Regions from separate parts of the Homo sapiens genome. Here regions 1 and 2 are each linked to region 3. The links come from fine-mapping of genetic effects on gene expression. A gene starts in region 3. Each other region holds a variant in brackets. All regions are shown on one strand. Distances are between the middles of the regions. Region 1 overlaps THADA (THADA armadillo repeat containing). Region 2 overlaps LOC107985876. Region 3 holds the start of LINC01819 (long intergenic non-protein coding RNA 1819).

What was found. PIP is the estimated chance that this variant, and not a neighbour inherited with it, causes the effect.
Region 1: its variant is the best candidate, but not a certain one, in a credible set for the expression of LINC01819 in whole blood (INTERVAL, PIP 0.52).
Region 2: its variant is the best candidate, but not a certain one, in a credible set for the expression of LINC01819 in whole blood (TOPMed, PIP 0.51).

The regions. Positions count from the first base shown.
Region 1 is chr2:43,371,013-43,376,996 of GRCh38, forward strand. All of the region lies in intron 29 of THADA (THADA armadillo repeat containing), which reads right to left. Among named protein-coding and RNA genes, the nearest start is that of LINC01126, 150 kb to the left of the region's middle. The variant G/A (reference allele first, on the strand shown) is at 2,844.
Region 2 is chr2:43,090,524-43,096,507 of GRCh38, forward strand. The region is part of intron 2 of LOC107985876; the gene reads right to left. It also overlaps the pseudogene RNU6-242P. Among named protein-coding and RNA genes, the nearest start is that of LINC02580, 8.9 kb to the right of the region's middle. The variant C/T (reference allele first, on the strand shown) is at 3,012.
Region 3 is chr2:43,037,217-43,043,200 of GRCh38, forward strand. It overlaps LINC01819 (long intergenic non-protein coding RNA 1819), which reads right to left and starts at 2,327. Exons shown (of 6, transcript NR_110585.1): 1 at 1,904-2,327. RefSeq lists enhancers at 3,787-4,729, 4,730-5,671, 4,734-5,028, 5,672-5,984.

The DNA of each region.
Region 1 (5,984 bases), 330 kb after region 3:
TAATGAATATTACATTTCTGCTTTGAAGTGAACACTGAAAAACATGCCCACAACATTTTCTTTTTCAGCCTCTGGAGTTTGAGTTGTGCCAAATAATTAACATAGTAACTTGAAGGTAGATTTTTATATTTATTCTATTTTTAATTAACCATAAGCTTCAGTCCTTGGGGAACCTTTTTAGATAAAGAATATCCTCTTCATAGTACTATGAAGTATATAATTCCTTAAATTATCAAATATAATTCTTAAACTCTGACCACCACTCCTAATGCAAAAATTTTTTAAAAGTAGCAATACAACTTGAAGTTCCAAATCTGAAATGTATAGCTTGATGAGTTTTTACATATGTCTAATGACATATTATAACATTCTTTTGCAATGGTGGTTAAATGGTAGAATTTCTACACTGATTAGAATGTTAATAGTAGATACTGATTTTTCATAATATAAGAAAGAGCAATGCTCAGTTTTTGTTGAGAGGGGAATGAACTTTCACAAGTAAATTGTCTCTTTATGTTAAACAATATTCAGTAAGAAAGTGCTCTTATAAAAATAAAGACAAAGAAAAAAAACAAAACATGCATTCTTTTCTTTTTCACAAAGGGGAGAGATCACTGACTTGATTTTCAAACTCTTTGATTCTTTTGTTAACTCACCCCTGAATGCATCAACTCCTTGGCAAACAAAATAAATTAAACCTTCACAGTTTCTTCAACTAAAACTATTTTGCTGTCCATGGACTGAATTACTTTGGTCTGTTTGCCAAACCTCCACACGCAATTTGGCCACTTAATTGCTTAGAGGGTCCGCTATTTCCCTTTTCTGGTGCACTAAAAAAAAAAATCACTTGCCATTTTAGCAGCTAGGTTTATGTGCTAACTTTCCCCACTGTTTAAATATCTACTCCCCAAGTCAGTGATGGATTATAAAACCCAGGCCCCAGGATATTCACCTCATGCTGGATTTCTGATGGTTGGGATAACTCGTTCCTGGGCGTTGAGTTTTTGTCATCATTCATCCAAACATATTCTCCCATCTTTGGGCTGCCTGTTGTCACCTCCTCACAATATAAACTTCTTTCTTAGTAGTCTCCAAAGACTGTGTGGTCAGCTAAACAATTTTTAAACATCAGTGGCAAATGTCTAAGAACGTGCATACAACAAACTAACTGGGAAAAGACTAATCTGAACACACGAGAAATCTATTCAAACAAAAAATAAGTTTTAAAGAGCTGCTAGTTTTATTACTTAAATATGATGAGTAATGTGAACTAAAACACACAAGTACTGTTTCTGTTCTGAACCTGATACATTCAGAGGACACATTAATAATAAACATCACGGAGGAAGGTACATTTTTGTAGTACATGTGTCAGAATTACACAAATAAAACAAAACCCTAAAATAGTGAAATTCAAATTAATGAGATTTCTTCTTTATTCTAGAAAAATCTCACTCTTTTTTAATGATGAAGTGACAGGTGAAGTGGCCATTAAACTTGGAGTTCTAGGGTCAGGAGTTTCTAACCCCTCTGGGAACTTTGCATTGCAGAGTGTGAAGGTCCTCAAATCCCCACCCACTCAACACAGCCAACAGAGGGGGTTTCTACAACATGAGTTTTCTTGTTCTGCTATGCAGCATGCCTGTTTCATGTCACCAAAAAGGAAACAGGCCATATAAACTGCATTTCAAAGTGGCTCGACTTCCATTGTGACAAGTGTAGAGCATTAGTCTAATAAGTATTTATTTATTTTTTGAGACAGATTCTCACTCTGTCACTTAGGCTACAGTGCAGTGGCGCGGTCTCAATCTCCGCAGTAGCTGGGGTTACAGGTGTGCGCCACCACACCTTCGCTAATTTTTTGTATCTTTAGTAGAGACGAGGTTTCACTATGTTAGCCAGGCTGCTCTTGGACTCCTGGCCTCAAGTGATCTGCCCAAAGTGCAGGGATTACAGGCATGAGCCACCACGCCCAGCCAAGTCTAGTAAGTATTTAAACTCTCCATTGGAATACCCCCCCAAAAAACTTATTTCTAATGCTACCAATAGGAAAACAAAGAGGAAAAAAAGAAAAGAAAATACTATCACCATCACACCCTTTGAATTACTCAAAAACAGCATTACTCTTATTCATTCATTTAACAAACATGTATTGGGTGTTTAAGGTTAAATGTTAGGGGAGTGTACAAAATAATGACAAGTTTACATGTTTATTTAAAATACAATATATAACACACAGTTTAAATCATAAATGATGTTCAAGAATTAAAACAAAAAGCCCAACATTTTCACTATCTCTATGAAAACTGTCAACTTTAAAAGACTACTAGAACTGCTTATTCTCTTGATGCAAGTTATTATTGGCATCCAATAATTTCTATTTTCTGTCTAAAATAATTTGTGTTAGTACATGACTAGGTTCTCTTAAGGAAAAAAATTAATAGCTTGTAATAAATCTCAGTTGTTAACTTTTTTTTTTTTGAGACAGGGTCTCACTCTGTCTCCCAGGCTTGGAGTACAGTGGCACGATTTTGGCTCACTGCAACCTCCACCTCCCGGGTTCAAGCGATTCTCCTACCTCAGCCTCCCAAGTAGCTGGGATTACAGGTGCACACCATCAGGCCTGGCTAATTTTTGTATTTTTAGTAGAGATGGGGTTTCACCATGTTGGCCAGGCTGGTCTCGAACTCCTTGGCCTCATGTGATCTGTCCACCTCGGCCTCCCAAAGTGCTAGGATTACAGGCATGAGCCAATGAGCCTGCCCAAGTCTAATAAGTATTTAAACTCTCTATTGGAATACACCAGGAAAACTCATTTCTAATATTACCAACAGATGTTCTTT[G/A]TATTGATCACAACATCTTTCTAGTTCCCTTATTAATTAATGAGTTAAATAAAATCTTACATGCATGTTCATTTTATATTTGCCTGAGAGTGATTTTACCTTTATGAAATTATACTTTAACAATGTCAGTTTTCCCCAAATTGCTTGACAGATGCAACACAATCTCAATCAAAAAACATTTCATTGATCCTTACTATTTATTGTTGCACATCAATTTTGGAATTTTGGAATTACACTATCAAGTGAAAGTTTAAAAAGTTAAAATTTTTATTGGACATGCATTAAGCCTATGTTTGGAGAAAACTGACATCTTTATAATATTCAGCCCAATCAAAAACATGTAATATTCTTGGGGAAAGCCCAAGAGAATCAACGGAAAACATATTAGTGCACAAAAGATCTTTACAAATAATACAGCAAATGAGAGTTAGGTGACACGGTACAGTATGGTACTGAAGTTAGGAATACAGGTTCTGAACTCTGGATCTGCCACTTTCTAGCTATATGAGCCTCAGTTTCTTCACTGTAAAATAGTATTCACTTTCTAGAACCGTTATGAGGATTCAATCAGCAAATATATGTAAGTGCATCTAAGTGTTTGACCCAGAGTTAGTGCAATAGAAGTGAGGACTAATAGTATTATTACAAAGCAAATATACAGAAGTCAATCATTTTCAAAAGTAAAATAGCACTATCAAAAGATATAACCAATAAAAGTACCCACTGATAACAGCAATAAGAAATATTTTTAAAATGCATTCTATACGAAGGAACCTTTAAAATGTAATGCTGTTGATGACATATAAGGATACAAACAAATGGAATGGCATAAACCACTAAATAACACATAATTAAATATGTTATATATAGTTAATAAGTTAACATATTAGTTTAGTGTGATCCTAATTTTAAAAATGACAATAAAAGGTAGGCGACTATACAAATTGATTTAAAGTTCATAAAATATTGAAAAAATAATACTGAAGGGGAATTAGTCTACACCAAATTGTAAAACACATATTGTAAAGCTACTATGAGCAACTGGTGTATGAATAAACAAATTGTTCAAAGGAAAAGACCAAAAATCTGGAAAATAAGAGCAACTATATACTGAAACTCAGTGTATGACAAAGACAGCTTTCAGTCTGGGGAGGTAAGATTTATTTTCTAATAAATGGTCGTGGACCAAAAAGAAAAAAAAAACCAGAAAAACTATGCAAATGATAGTTACCATTTATTAAGAAACTATATCATGCCAGCCACTATACTGGGAATTTGTACATGTAACATCTCTATTCCTTACAGCATCGTTGCCAATTATGCGTTATTATTTTGCAGATGGGTAAGCTTCAGTTCAGAGTTTAAGTGACTTGCCCTAGCAAGTATCTAGAAAATGGGGAAAGAGAATATCAAGTCCAGGACTGTCTGCCTGGATCCAAAACTTCTTTCTATTATATCATCCTCTAGCCACCACATAATCCAGTTTGTCAATGAAACTATCAATGGAGCAATAAACACTGCAAGATCACAAACTGTATACCAAGTAGGAATGAAGTAAGTATAATATAACACAGTATTTTCTCTCTATTCTTCTTAATTTTAAAATGATAAGTATACTTGGGGTCCCTGTCTGATTTATACTTCATCATTGTAGCTTCTTAGCTTTTCAATTACTGGATGACATCTAAGATGAATGCACCTTACACAAAATTCTTTCCAAAAGAGTAGCGTTAAAGTGAAGCTAGCATGCACTTCAAAATAATTTTACACAGAGGAAAATTTTGTAAATGTTTTCTTTTTCTAAATACAAGGTCACAATTTTAGGAAACTGAAAAATCTGTAGGCCAAAAGAATATAACGCTGGTTATTCTGACTTTCCTCTGCTGGGCAGTAAACCTCCTGAACTTCTATTTTTGAAAACTGAGGTATCCCTTTAATCTTGTTACAGAACTGCTGACAGTGTTAAGACAGCAAAGGAAAATCAGCCCAGGGCCTGCACTATGAAGGTCTCCAAGAAAAGGAATAAAACAAAGCACAAACATGCAAAAGCATTTTGCAAGAGAATTTCGTGAAATCAGTGTCAGTGTTCACAACCCAACACAAGAAACACCACCCACCTGCAAGCTGTTTCAGACTAAAAGGGGCCCCTGAAGCCAGATAAACATTGTGAAACCCTCAGAGCCAATATTTACAGCATGGTTAAAGTTGTACCTGTAGAAAACAGAACATCCCTCCTCTCTGGCCTCTCCAAGGATTCTACACATAACCAGTAATGCTCTCTTCTATTTTATTAGGTGTATATAAAGATACAGTTCAGAATGTACATGGCTTCCCCTGTCTTACTACATTCAGACAGTCAAGACACAAGGACACTCTGCTGTATGCACTCCTGAAGTAATACCCTCTTTATGATTATTTGTTTTCTACAAACACCTAAGACAATTGAGCCAACATTTTTAAAACAGAGAACCATCTGCTCTTCAAAAAATGGTCTCCATTTGGCTTAAGTCATTTTCAAAACTTTCTTTAATTCTATAGCTGAAAATACACAGAAGCAATGTCCCTTTCCCAAACTACATGTGATGTTAGAGATTTACTAGGATGCCCTCAGACAACGATAAAGATCTGTATTCTAAACATTCCGTCTCAGTTACTGAAGGCCACATGTTAAATGAATGAAGCCTATTTCTGTCTCACTTAGAAGCAAAACACTTAACACCTGCTTGGAATCAACAGCAAAGACTCTTACTAGGTTTCTGAGCCCCAAATACCACACTCGAATTAAGTCAAATGTCAGTAATGACTGACATTCAGAAGGGCTTCGCAGAGGCTCTGGCAACCTAGATACATTACAACACACTTATCTCTACCCATCACTACTCTGAGGCAAACAAAATCTGTTTCTTTATGTGAGATGACTAGAAAGTAGGGTGGCCTAGAATGAGTTTGTCCAGGGAATTAAGATTCATGGGGTCTGGCTCCTAAATGACTGTGTGACTTCATATGCAGCCAACATTTCAAGAGCCCCTACTATGTGCTGGAGCCAGTGTCAGACACTGGGAGTTTTAAGTGGTGAGTAAGGCACGGTCCTCAGCCTCAAAAAATTCAGGTCACCTCCTCAGGTCTGTTTTCCCATTCATG
Region 2 (5,984 bases), 53 kb after region 3:
CATAGCAATTCTGAAATCCATTCAGGCTCATATTGTGTTGCCAATTTCTTGATTAGGGCTCAGTTCTACTGCCTGGGAATGATTCTTTGTGGCTTTTGGCTCTGTTCTCTAGATTCTTGGTTCCACCTTCTGAATCATCCTTCTTTCTCTATAAAAAATGGCTGGTGATATGGTTTGGCTATGTCCCACCCAAATCTCATCTTGAATTTCCACGTGTTGTGGGAGGGACCTGGTGGGAGGTAATTGAATCATGGGGGCAAGTCTTTCCCGTGCTGTTCTTGTGATAGTGAATAAGACTCACGAGATCTGATGGTTTTAAAAAAAGAAGCACAAGCTCATCTTCTCTTTGCCTGCCACCATCCACGTAAAATGTGACTTGCTCCTCGTTGCCTTCTGCCATGATTGTGAGGCTTCCCCAGCCATGTGGAACTGTAAGTCCAATTAAACTTCTTTCTTTTGTAAATTGCCCAGTCTCAGGTATGTCTTTATCAGCAGTGTGAAAACAGACCAATACACCTGGTGTTTCCAACTGAGTAGTTTTCAGCTTGTTTCCTTCCCATAGAATTTTGGGGGTCCAAAAGCCTTTTTTCATTTCACACTATTCTGACCCTTTTTGCCCAAGCTGGTGGTGCTTCTGACAAAATAATTCTATTAAAAACTGTGTGGGTTTCCCATGAATCCTATTGGGGCTCACTCTGTTAGTCAAAAGCTATAACCAAACATTTCATCAAGAAAACATTCTCTACATTCTCAATGTGAGGCTGGTGTAAAACGATTTACTTAAGATACTTAGAAGCCCTGTTGTTTAATGAAGAGGATCTGTGAGGCACACTCTTTTTCATTTTATTTTTAATTTGTTTTTATTTTAATATGAAGTGCTTCATGAATTTGCATGTCATCCTTGCACAGGGGCCATGCTAATCTTTTCTGTATTGTTCCAATTTTAGTATACGTGCTGCTGAAGCGAGCACTGAGGCACACTCTTGAAATACTTAGAGGGCCTTTGTCTATTCAAAATATTTTATGAAGCCTTAGATATTTCTGAGATTTTAACAAAGGTTCTTATAGTCCCACTCTGGGTTTTATCTTTGTCCTGAAGCCCTTTCATACTTTGAGAATCTTTTGCCATCTGGGAGGCTGAGAATGAAAAGCAGATTTATTTTCAAATCCAGCAAGCCCCTGGCTCTTGTATATGTTTTATAAATTTTGCTTGAAAGTTAAAGCTTCCTTTTAACTCATCTTTCTCTGTCTTTATCATATACAGCTAAAATAATCCAACTAGCATTTTCTAATCCAACTAGCATTTTCAACAGTCTGCTTAAAAATTGTTTTAGCCCAAACCATTAGTTCATTAGGCATATTTTCTTTTTCATTTTTCTTTTTTTTCTTTTTTTTTTTGAGACAGAGTCTTACTCTGTCACCCAGGCTGGAGGGCAGTGGCACAGTCTCAGCTCACTGCAACCTCTGCCCTCTGGGCTCAAGCGATTCTGCAGCTTCGGCCTCCCGAGTAGCTGGGATTACAAGCATGAGCCACCAAGCCCAGCTAATTTTTGTATTTTTAGTAGGGACAGGATTTCTCCGTGTTGGCCAGGCTGGTCTCGAACTCCTGACCTCATGTGATCTGCCCACCTCGGCCTCCCAAAGTGCTGGGGTTAGAGGTGTGAGCCACCGTGCCCAGCCTTCATTAGGCACATTTTCTATTGCTCACATAGCTTCAAGTGACAATGTTACTAACTTTCTTCCACCACGTAATAAGGGTTTGTCCCCTTTCCTCCTGCTTCTAATAAAAATTTCTCACTTTCCTTTAAGCCCTCACCAGCAACTTCCTTGAGAACTATCAGACTTCCATCAACAATATCCTCAAAGTCCTTACAATCTCTACCCATCTCCCAGTCCTAAAGCCACATGACTTAGGTTCTGTGATGGCAGCATTCCGTTTCTAGGTTATAGAAAAGTCTGCATCAGCTATCTATTGCATGATAAGAAACCATCCCCAAACAGTGGTCTTAAGACAACAACAATCATTTATTTTGTTCCTGAAATTTGAGGGTTGACAGAGACTAAGCTAGGCAGTTCTCACTCAGGGTGTCTCATGAGTTTGCAGTCAATTGGTGGCTGGGGCTGAGGTCAGCTCAAATGCTGGGGTCTAGACTAGGAGGTTCACACTGCTTGGGGCTGGATGGCTGGAACTCCTCAGGAATCTCTCACTTTAAATGCAGTCCCTCTACAAGGCAGCCTCAGGGTAGCTGAGTTTCTTTCACAGCAGCTGAAGCCTCCCGACATGAGTGTCCCTAAAGGAATCATCAGAAGCTGCAGGGTCTTTTCTAACCTAGCCTTGGAAATCACACAGTGTCACTTTTGCCACATTCTATTTGTCTAGGCACTCCCACATTTCCACCCAGGTTCAAAGGGAGGGGACATAGGCTCCACTTCTTGATGGAAAGAGAGTCAAAGGATTGTGTACACGTTTTAAAACACACAAATGTTTAAGTAATATGTCCAAGGCCAAATAGCTGGAAAGTGACAGAGTTGAGGTTTGAACCCAGGCATTCTGATTCTAGACTCACATTCTCAACTGCTAGTCTACACTGCCTCCTGTAAGTTGTAGACACAAATGGTCTACATGATGCAGAAGTTGGGGAGACAGGGGTTCCCTGGCTTGGGAAAGTTACTGTCTTGCTTTTCTGTACTCACCTTCCTTTCAGAAAGGTAGTAGGACTCATATTACCTTCTTCTGGGGTGGAGTGGCTTCCTGACTGTAAAATGAATGAACAAATCAGAGCTGGAGCAGCCTCCTCTCAAGGAATTATCTCTTCCTTGAGATCATTTTCTTCCCATGGCCATCAGTGCCTTGACTGGTTTCCATGTCACTCTCATTGTGGCCTTCAGACACCTCCTTGTCATCTGTTCCTGTGATCTTGCTCTTAACTTCTCACCACTAGTTTTTTAGTTTTTTTCACAGGGGGATGGAAGAGTACCCTTTGGCATTTCTTTCTTTCTTTCTTTTTTTT[C/T]TTTTTTTTTTGAAATGGAGTCTTGCTCTGTCACCCAGGCTGGAGTGCAGTGGTGCAATCTTGGCTCACAGCAACCTCCGCCTCCTGGGCTCAAGTGATTCTCCTGCCTCAGCCTCCCGAGTAGCTGGGACTGCAGGCGCGCACCACCATGTCCAGCTAATTCTTTGTATTTTAGTAGAGATGGGGTTTCACCACATTACCCAGGCTGGTCTTGAACTCCTGAGCTCAGGCAATCTGCCCACATTGGCCTCCCAAAGTGCTAGGATTACAGGCGTGAGCCACCACCCCTGGCCTATCCTTTGACATTTCAAGAATGTCTGCCAGCCTGTTTGGAGGAAGGCATCCTTTCAAGCCTGAAGATCATTCATCAGAAGATGAGGCTTCTGTGGACTTTATCAGGCCAGAGAGTTTTTCTACATTTCCTTTAAGTCTTGACTTTGAGCAGGTTTGACTTTTAACATCTTTGTCATGAGCCTTAAAGTCCAGAATAGGACTTGCATGATAGTCCATGTCCCGTGAATCTTGTCTGGAATAGCCCTTCATATTCTGAACAATGCCTAGCTGCAGAAGACAGATCATCCCAAAAGCACATGGTGGACAGGTGTAAGGCCGCCATAAATGGGGATGTCATCTGTGCAATGCACAAAAGGGCTGGGCCAAGGAAGTGAGCAGAGTATGGCCTGAAACCCAGCCCGTGCTCCACTGGCCAAACCTTCCACCCTCGTTAGAGGCTGTGTCCGCCTGAAGGAAAGAACAGCTTTTTCTTGCTTGTCCACCCAGAGTCAGGCATCTTTTTCTAACTCAATAAAGATACCATATGTATTAACAGCAGCACCAGGGGAAGGTGAGAAGACAAAAATATAGTAACCTACTCCATAGGACAAGTAATAGAAATCAACCCTGACAAATCACAATAATATGACAAAATTCACAATAATGAATAAAACATTACAACTACAGTCAAATCCCTGCCCCAAGCCCTTCTCTCTCCCACTCACACAGATATGAGTGCCATCCTAAAGTCGGTGGCATCATTTCTAAGAGTGATTTTGGTTTTGACCTTTTGTTTGGCCCTAAATTTCAAGAAAAGGTTGAACAATTGAGCCTCAGGAAAGGATGTAAGCATCTGGAGTCAATGCATCTCCTCACCAGAACATTCCCATTAAAGCAACCACATTCCCACAGCTCCCTGTCTCTGCCCCAGTTCAGAATTCCAGAATCTTGAGACAGATAATCTGATTGGCCCAGCTTTGACCCTCTATACCAATCAGCTATGGCTAGGGCCAACAGGAGTCATAGAATATAGCATCTATACCATAGACAACTGCTCAGCCCCCTTGCCATGCGTGTCAGGTTGGTGCCCAGAGAAAAAGCCCTAATTGTGAGACTTCCAGCCCTCCAAGAATTCCTAGAGCAGTGCAGTACGATTGTCTAGGATTTGTGATCTTCCCAAAAAGTCCTGGGAAGTTGATCTGACCCAACAAGTGAGAACAAAATGCTCCTATAGCTCTTTAGCCATTTCATTTCACCCTACAGACAGCAGGCAGTGACATTTTCCATTTTCCACATTTTTCCAAAGATCTTATTTATTAATGCTTTTAGCATCAATAAAAAGTCAAATTCTTCATATTCTTCTCCTTATTAAGACTGTGTCATCGGGTATGGTGGCTCATGCCTGTAATCCCAGCACTTTGGGAGGCTGAGGTGGGTGGATCACTTGAGGTCAGGAGTTCAAGACCACTTGGCCACATGATGAAACTCCGTCTCTACTAAAACTACAAAAATTAGCCGGGCATGGTGGTGCATGCCTGTAATCCCAGCTACTCGGGAGGCTGAGGCAAGAGAATTCCTTGAACCCAGGAGGCAGAGGTTGCAGTAAGCCGAGATTGAGCCGAATGCACTCCAGCCTGGGTGACAGAGTGAGACTCCGTCTCAAAAAAAAAAAAAAAAAAAAGAAAAAGACTGTGTCACAGAAGACTAGAGCATTCAGCTCTGTAAAACTGTTCAGAGGCCAACCTAGCAACAGAAATGAATTCTACTTTGGGAGGCCAAGGCAGGAGGATTACATGAGGCCAGGAGTTCAAGACAGTCTGGGCAACATAGCAAAACCCTGTCACTACAAAAATAATTTAAAATTTAGCCAGGGCCAGGCACAGTGGCTCACATCTGTAATCCCACTTAGGGAGAACAAGAAGGGAGGATCACTTGAGTCCAGAAGTTTGAGATCAGCCTGGGCAACATAGCAAGACCCCATCTCTATTCAATAATTTAAAAAAAAAAAAAATTAGCCAAGCGTGGTGGCATACAAGACTGTAGTCCCACCAACTTGGGAGGCTAAGGCAGAAGGATTGCTTGAGTGATCCCTGTCTCAAAACAAAAAAAAAAAAAAGAAAGAAAGAAATGAATTTTGACAAAAGCCACAAAATTAGTTTGTAGTGTCTTGATTGGCAACCTCTTAAAATATTTTTTAAAATTATGATATACAGTCATGAACCACATAATGATGTTTCAGTCAACAAAGCATTGCATATACAACAGTACTCTCATAAGACTACGATACCACATTTCTACTGTACCTTTTCTATGTTTAGATACACAAATACTTGCCATCGTATTACACTTGTCTTCATTATTCAGTACAGTAACATGGAGTATGGGTTTGCAGCCTTCAAGCAATAGGCTAGACCATATAGTCTAAGTTATATAGTCAGCTATTCCATCCTAAGTTTGTGTAAGTACACTCGATAATGTTCACACAATAACAAAACTGCTTAACAACGTATCTCTAAGAACTTATTCCCCATCATTAACTCATGCATGACTGTATTTAAAATGTACACAAAATGGTTTAACAGAAACCCTCATAGCCTCTCCCCAGATTCAACAGATATTAACATTTTGTTTCAGATTATCTTATCTTTTTTAAAGGAATAAAACATTACAGCTACAGTCAAATCCCTGCCCCAAACCCTT
Region 3 (5,984 bases):
GAGGCTGAAGCATAAGAATTGTTTGAACCTGGGAGGTGGAGATTGCAGTGAGCCGAGATCACGCCACTGTACTCCAGCCTGGGTGACAGAGTGAGACTCGGTCTCAAACAACCACCAAGGCTGGGTTTCTAGCTATGTTTGGCCCACAGAATTAAAAAAGTGGTGGCATCCCTGGGGCCCAGCCAGAAAGAAGCCGTGGGAATGAAGAAAAGTGACCCAAAGAGGAGAGTGCACAGAGGGAGGTGGAGTGAGGGCTGACTGAGCCAGCTGTCTCTCCTACCCAGGAATTCTTCCTGAGCTAAATCTCGGAGATTCTGGTTTGTAAAGTAATAGCTCTCCTTATATTTGTCTATTGTGTAAGTGCATGATTATGCTAAAAAAATTAAAAATTCAAATAAGGAAAACCAAAATAAAAACAAAGAAAAAGAAGCAATCTAAAATTACCCCTTAGCTCACCACTCGTCAATGTTTTATTGTATATCCTTCCAACGTTTTTCATAAATCAATGCTTTATTATTTATTTATTTATTTTTTTGAGACGGAGTTTCACTATTGCCCAGGCTGGAGTGCAATGGTGCAATCTCGGCTCACTGCAACCTCCGCCTCCCGGGTTCAAGCAACTATCCTGCCTTAGCCTCCTGAGTAGCTGGGATTACAGGCATGTGCCACCACGCCTGGCTAATTTTGTATTTTTCAGTAGAGATGAGGTTTCTCCATATTGGTCAGGCTGGTCTCGAATTCCCTACCTCAGGTGATCTGCCTGCCTCGGCCTCCGAAAGTACTGGGATTACAGGCATGAGCCACTGCGCCCAGCCCAATCAATGATTTAAAAATCAGATTATTTTATATACATCTCAGCTTTGTATTATTCTGTTCGTTATGCTATCTGCTTATTTCTATGTCATTAGATGCTCTTCTACATCATTTTTAAAGGCTCAATTGTGTTTTGTTTTCTGGATGTTTCACAATGTATTTAACCCATGCCCCATTTTTGGACATTTAGGTTGCTTCCGGTTTTTCAGGCTTAGAAGTCACAGTGAAGGACAACTTTGTGGCTAAATCTTTGAATGACCACCTATGTATATTCCCTGGAATAAGTCCCAGAAATAGACTCCCTGAAAGAAAGGACACTAGGGTTCGTTTCCATCCCTGGGCAGATCCCGAGGAAGGCTGGGTTGTTCTGGAGGTCTTGGCGCTGGGCCCTGCACTCCAAGCTTCAGGGCCTCCCAGACCCTTAGTGCACGTTCCACTACACTAAATCACCCCGCCCCTCCTCTCCCCACTCTGCCCCAGGCTTTGGACTCACCCAGGAGAATGAATTACACCTCCCAGCCGGACGTGAGGCCATTTGTCTTGTGCTCTGGAATCCTGATTAGATAAAATCTGAACAGAGCACATTTACTTATTTAGTGTATTTCTGGGTGGGTGGGTCCTAGCCCTTGGGGATCACCTTCTCCAGATCAGGGTGAAGAGTTTACAGAAGGGAGGAGCAGGTCACATATCCAGAGCAACCAGCTCAGGCATTCACCCTGCGGGGTCACAGGAACCCCACCGTCCCCAGCTCAGGCCCACTCCACTCCAGCTCCAATCTCCCCAGTCCTGCCTCCCCGCCTCCAGCTCAGGAAGCTTTAGGCGTTGGTTGCTCATCATATGGCTGAGGCTGGCAGAAAGAAGGACTAGGTGCCCAGTGATGTGGCCACATCGCACCTCTGGCGGGAAGTGGACTCTCTCCGACCCCCCTTGGGGGCTCTGGTGGCCTCTGCGGGACCTCGGGTTGTCTGAGCACACGCACCCTCGCCCTCTCTGGGACCTGATGCCTCGATTTAGGCTCAGACCCTGTAAATGCCCCTTGAGAGCCCTCAAGGATCCAGGGTTCTCTTGTCCTCAAAGAAGCAGAACATACCTGCTCACCAGCCTGCAGCTTGTCCTGTGTGTCCCGTCTCCTCAAGTACGGAGAGGCCAGGGCTTCCTGAATCTCATCAGATCCGAATCTCCCCAGATCTCATCAGGGCCTCTTCCCAGGAGACACCAACTCTCAAGGTCTGGAGACACACCTGGAACCTGTATTTTCCCAAATGGTCCTCCTGGCTCTTCCCACAGAACTGTCTTCTTGTCCCTGGTCTCCACTGATGGGGAACAAGGCATGTGACCCCCTGGGTCGGGCAGGCCCAAGGCAGGCGAGGCAGTGAGAAGCAGGCGAGGGGATAGGGCTGCTTGCTCAGGTAACTTGGGTTCAGGAGGTTTGGCAGCCGAGCTGCCTCTCCTGGCAGCGGGGCTTGGCCAAGGGCAATGTGCAGCCACACAAAGCCATCCTCACAAAGCCACCCTCACAGCCTCTCTGGCCGAGAGTCCCTGGGCGCTCACTTGCCGGGATGCACAGGCACGCCTCTGGCCAGGCCGGGCTGCGGGGGTTTGTGGCCTGGAGAATCAAAGAGCCGCCCTCAGCTCGGAGAACACTTCCTCTAGAAGGCTCTGGTAACAGCACACCGGGTCTGAGGAGAAAGAGCCTCTGTGGGCCACGGTGGGTCTTTGCCCACAGAGGCTCACACACCACCCCTCCTGTTCCAACACCACCCCCTGCCCGGCCCCAGTTCTCCTACCAGCCCAGGGGACTCAGGTGGGCCAGACCTTTTCACACTGCCCCTCCCACACACACCACAGCAAGAGGGTGAGCCTCCCTCTTTCTCTGCCGGGGTCTCTGGGGCCTCCCACGACGGGGGTGGGTGGTGCCATAAGCCCTGGGTGCCTGTGGGCGGTGGTCCCACGGATGCCCTGCTCAGTTCCAGACATAGTTGTTATTTGGACTTTTCACATCAAAGTAATTAATTAAATATGCAATAGAATACATTCTCTTCCTCAGTCAGTGGCAACCCCATCCCTTCATTCACTGAGGCCGAAACCTTGGATAGCCGTCCTGGAGTTTTTCAGACCCATGTCCAAACCACTGGAGCATCTTGTCAGCAGGATTCCAACTTCTTCCAGAGCCCACCCGCCTCTCACCACCTCTCTGTCATTTCCCACCTGGATGATTACAACAGTCCCTGTCGAGGCCCTGGCCCCACCACGCCACCAGTGGGGAGAATGCTTCCTCTAGAAGGCTCTGGTGGATTTGGGTGATGAGGGGGAGAGGGGTAGTCCCGGGCCAAGCCACACCAGTGACCCCACGTGTGTTCAGAACCCTCCTGTCTACATTTGATTTCATCTTGGCTACTCTTGTCAAGACATGCAGTTTGTTAGTCTTGAGCAAGTAAGAGTCCTTATTTGTATGCCCTCACATGTTATCACAAATCCCCCAGATTCTTTTTCAGATCTCATGCCCTAATTTGGGGTTTATGAAATCTACCATGCTGATAGGGATTCCTGTCTGTCATGGGGACTTTGAGCCATGACTCAGAACAAGACACTTATCAATCTGGGGCCTCTCCGAAGATGCTGAGACCAGGGCCAGTCTCAGCTGCAACGCCCTGCTTGGAAGCCACTATGGGATGATTCTGCAACAGATATCATGATGCAACAGATGCCCATGAATGACATGGGAAAGCTGGGCCCCATCGCCCAGGGGGACACTCCTGCTGTGCTCTGTCAGCAGGAGGGAGCCTCCTAGGAACTTCATCAGGACCCATTCTTTCTCTTTTTCTTTTCTTTTTTTTTTTTTTTTTTTGTGAGACGGAGTCTCACTCTGTCACCCAGGCTGGAGTGCAGTGGCTCAATCTTGGCTTACTGCAACGTCCGCCTCCTGGGTTCAAGCGATTCTTTTGACTCAGCCTCCTGAGTAGCTGGGATTACAGGCATGCACTGCCATGCCTGGCTAATTTTTGTATTTTTAGTAGAGACAAGGTTTCACCATGTCGGCCAGGCTGGTCTCAAACTCCTGACTTCAAGTTGTCCTCCCACCTTGGCCTCCCAAAGTGCTGGGATTACAGGCGTGAACCACTGCGCTTGGCCAGGACCCATCTTTGTGTGGGATCCCTGGCTCAGTGCTAGGACAGAAACAGGTTTTCCTTGGACTCTGTGGTGTGTGCTTGAGTGTATGTGGGTGAGTGTGTGTGTGATAACGCACCCTGCCCTGCCTTTCCCTCCCCACTCCTCCAACCTGGAGGTGACAGTCACAGGGCCCAGCCCCTCCCTGCCACCTTCCTGCCCCAGCCCCATCTCCATTCAGGGGCAAGTCCTGCTGTGGTGCTTAGAGTGCAGCTCTTTCAGGCTTTCCTTTCGCTTAGCCTTGATTTCCAGGCCACCATGATCAGACTGGGCTCCCAGGCAGCATCGGAGCATCCCCAAATCCAGGGCTGGGAGGAGCCAGGCCATCTTGTCCAAGTAAGGACTTGAAGTTCAGAGAGGAGAAGGCACCAAGCTTGTGTCACCCGCAGGTCCATGCAGAAGGGAGATTAGAACCCAGATCTGCTTTTCAGCCCAGGCCAGGCCTGCTACAAAAGGGCGGGAGGGGGCACCCAGGCTGAGGTGCTGGAATTAGCAGTTCTCTTTACCCTCAAATTAGCCCTGAGGCTGGCCCAAGCCCCTCCCTGCCAGCGTGCCCCTCTGTCTTCAGGAGCCCCCAGTGCCTGCCAGGGGCTTCTCCCCTTTTGCCAGCTTGCATCCATCCCCCACGGTTCCGTCTCTTGGCTGCTGCTTTTACAGGCTCCAAGCAGTGGGGAGGCTGATGGGGAGAGGGGGTCTGTGTTGGACTCAGCCAGACTTACTTCCAGCCAGTCCTCTTGCCCTCCCCTCCACAGACTGCCTAGAGACCAGGGAGCTCTCCCAACCCCACCCCTCGCCCCACTGCCACAGCTCTGACTCAGCCCATAAATTACCTAGGAATGGTCCGCTGACTCAGCCAGGAAGCCCAGAGCCCCCTTCCCCACCCTCAGGCCTCAACCCCACAGCTGGCTTTCATTCCAGAGTACTTGGCCCCCTCCCCTCAGGAAATTCCTGGAAAATATCAGGCTTCTTGGAGGGGAGATCTAACCACAGCCCCGGCAGGGAGCAAAGCCGCTGCAGCCTCATCCATCATTCTGCCCCTGCCCCTCCTCCAGCAGCTTGTGTGTTGCATGGGACTGAGCATGGAAGTGTCAGACCCCATAAAGTGATGGGTGCATGGCTCTGAGGGGAACTCCGGGGAGGGAGGAGAGAGGTGAGGCTGGCATGGGGTAGGGCAGTCAGGGCAGGCTGCTGGGAGGTGGAGGACTTTGTTTTGGGCCAGAAACGATGATAAAAACTGCTAAGTGCAGAAATGGAAAGCGTGCTTCAGGCCCAGGGGATGGCATAAGAAAAGGCTAGAGGTAGAAACCAACCGGTGTGTAGGGGGATGGGGAGGAAATTTGAGAATAAGCAGGGCTAGGCCAGTCGCGGTGGCTCATGCTTGTAATCCCAGCACTTTGGGAGGCCGAGGCAGGTGGATCACCTGAGGTCAGGAGTTCGAGACCAGCCTGGCCTACATGGCAAAACCCTGTCTCTTCTAAAAATACAAAAATTAGCCGGGCGTGGTGGCACACGCTTGTAATCCCAGCTGCTTGGGAGGCTGAGGCAGGAGAATTGCTTGAACCGGGGAAGCGGAGGTTGCAGTGAGCCGAGATTGTGCCACTGCACTCCAGCCTGGGTGACACAGCAAGACTCTGTCTAAAAACAAAACAAAACAAACAAACAAACAAAAAACAAAAACAGAATAAGGTCTAGAGGAGTGGCCGGACCGGAGAACCTGGGCTGATCAGGCCAGAGGGCCGGGGCCGGGGCCAGGCTGTGGAATTTGCAGGAAGTCTCCAAAGCAAAGGCCCAAGAGACTCTGGGAGACCTGGGAGCAAAGGAGAGCGTTTGGGGGCGGGGAGATGAATCTTGGACTAAAAGAACCTTGGCCAAGGAACACTGGTCCCTGCAACATCCTTGGACCACCTTGGGATCCCAGTGCCTGCTTCGACCTGAGGGGTGGGGCGGGGCATCTGATCATCACACTCCAGTCGGGGCAGAGGCAGGGCTCCGACTCTCAAGCA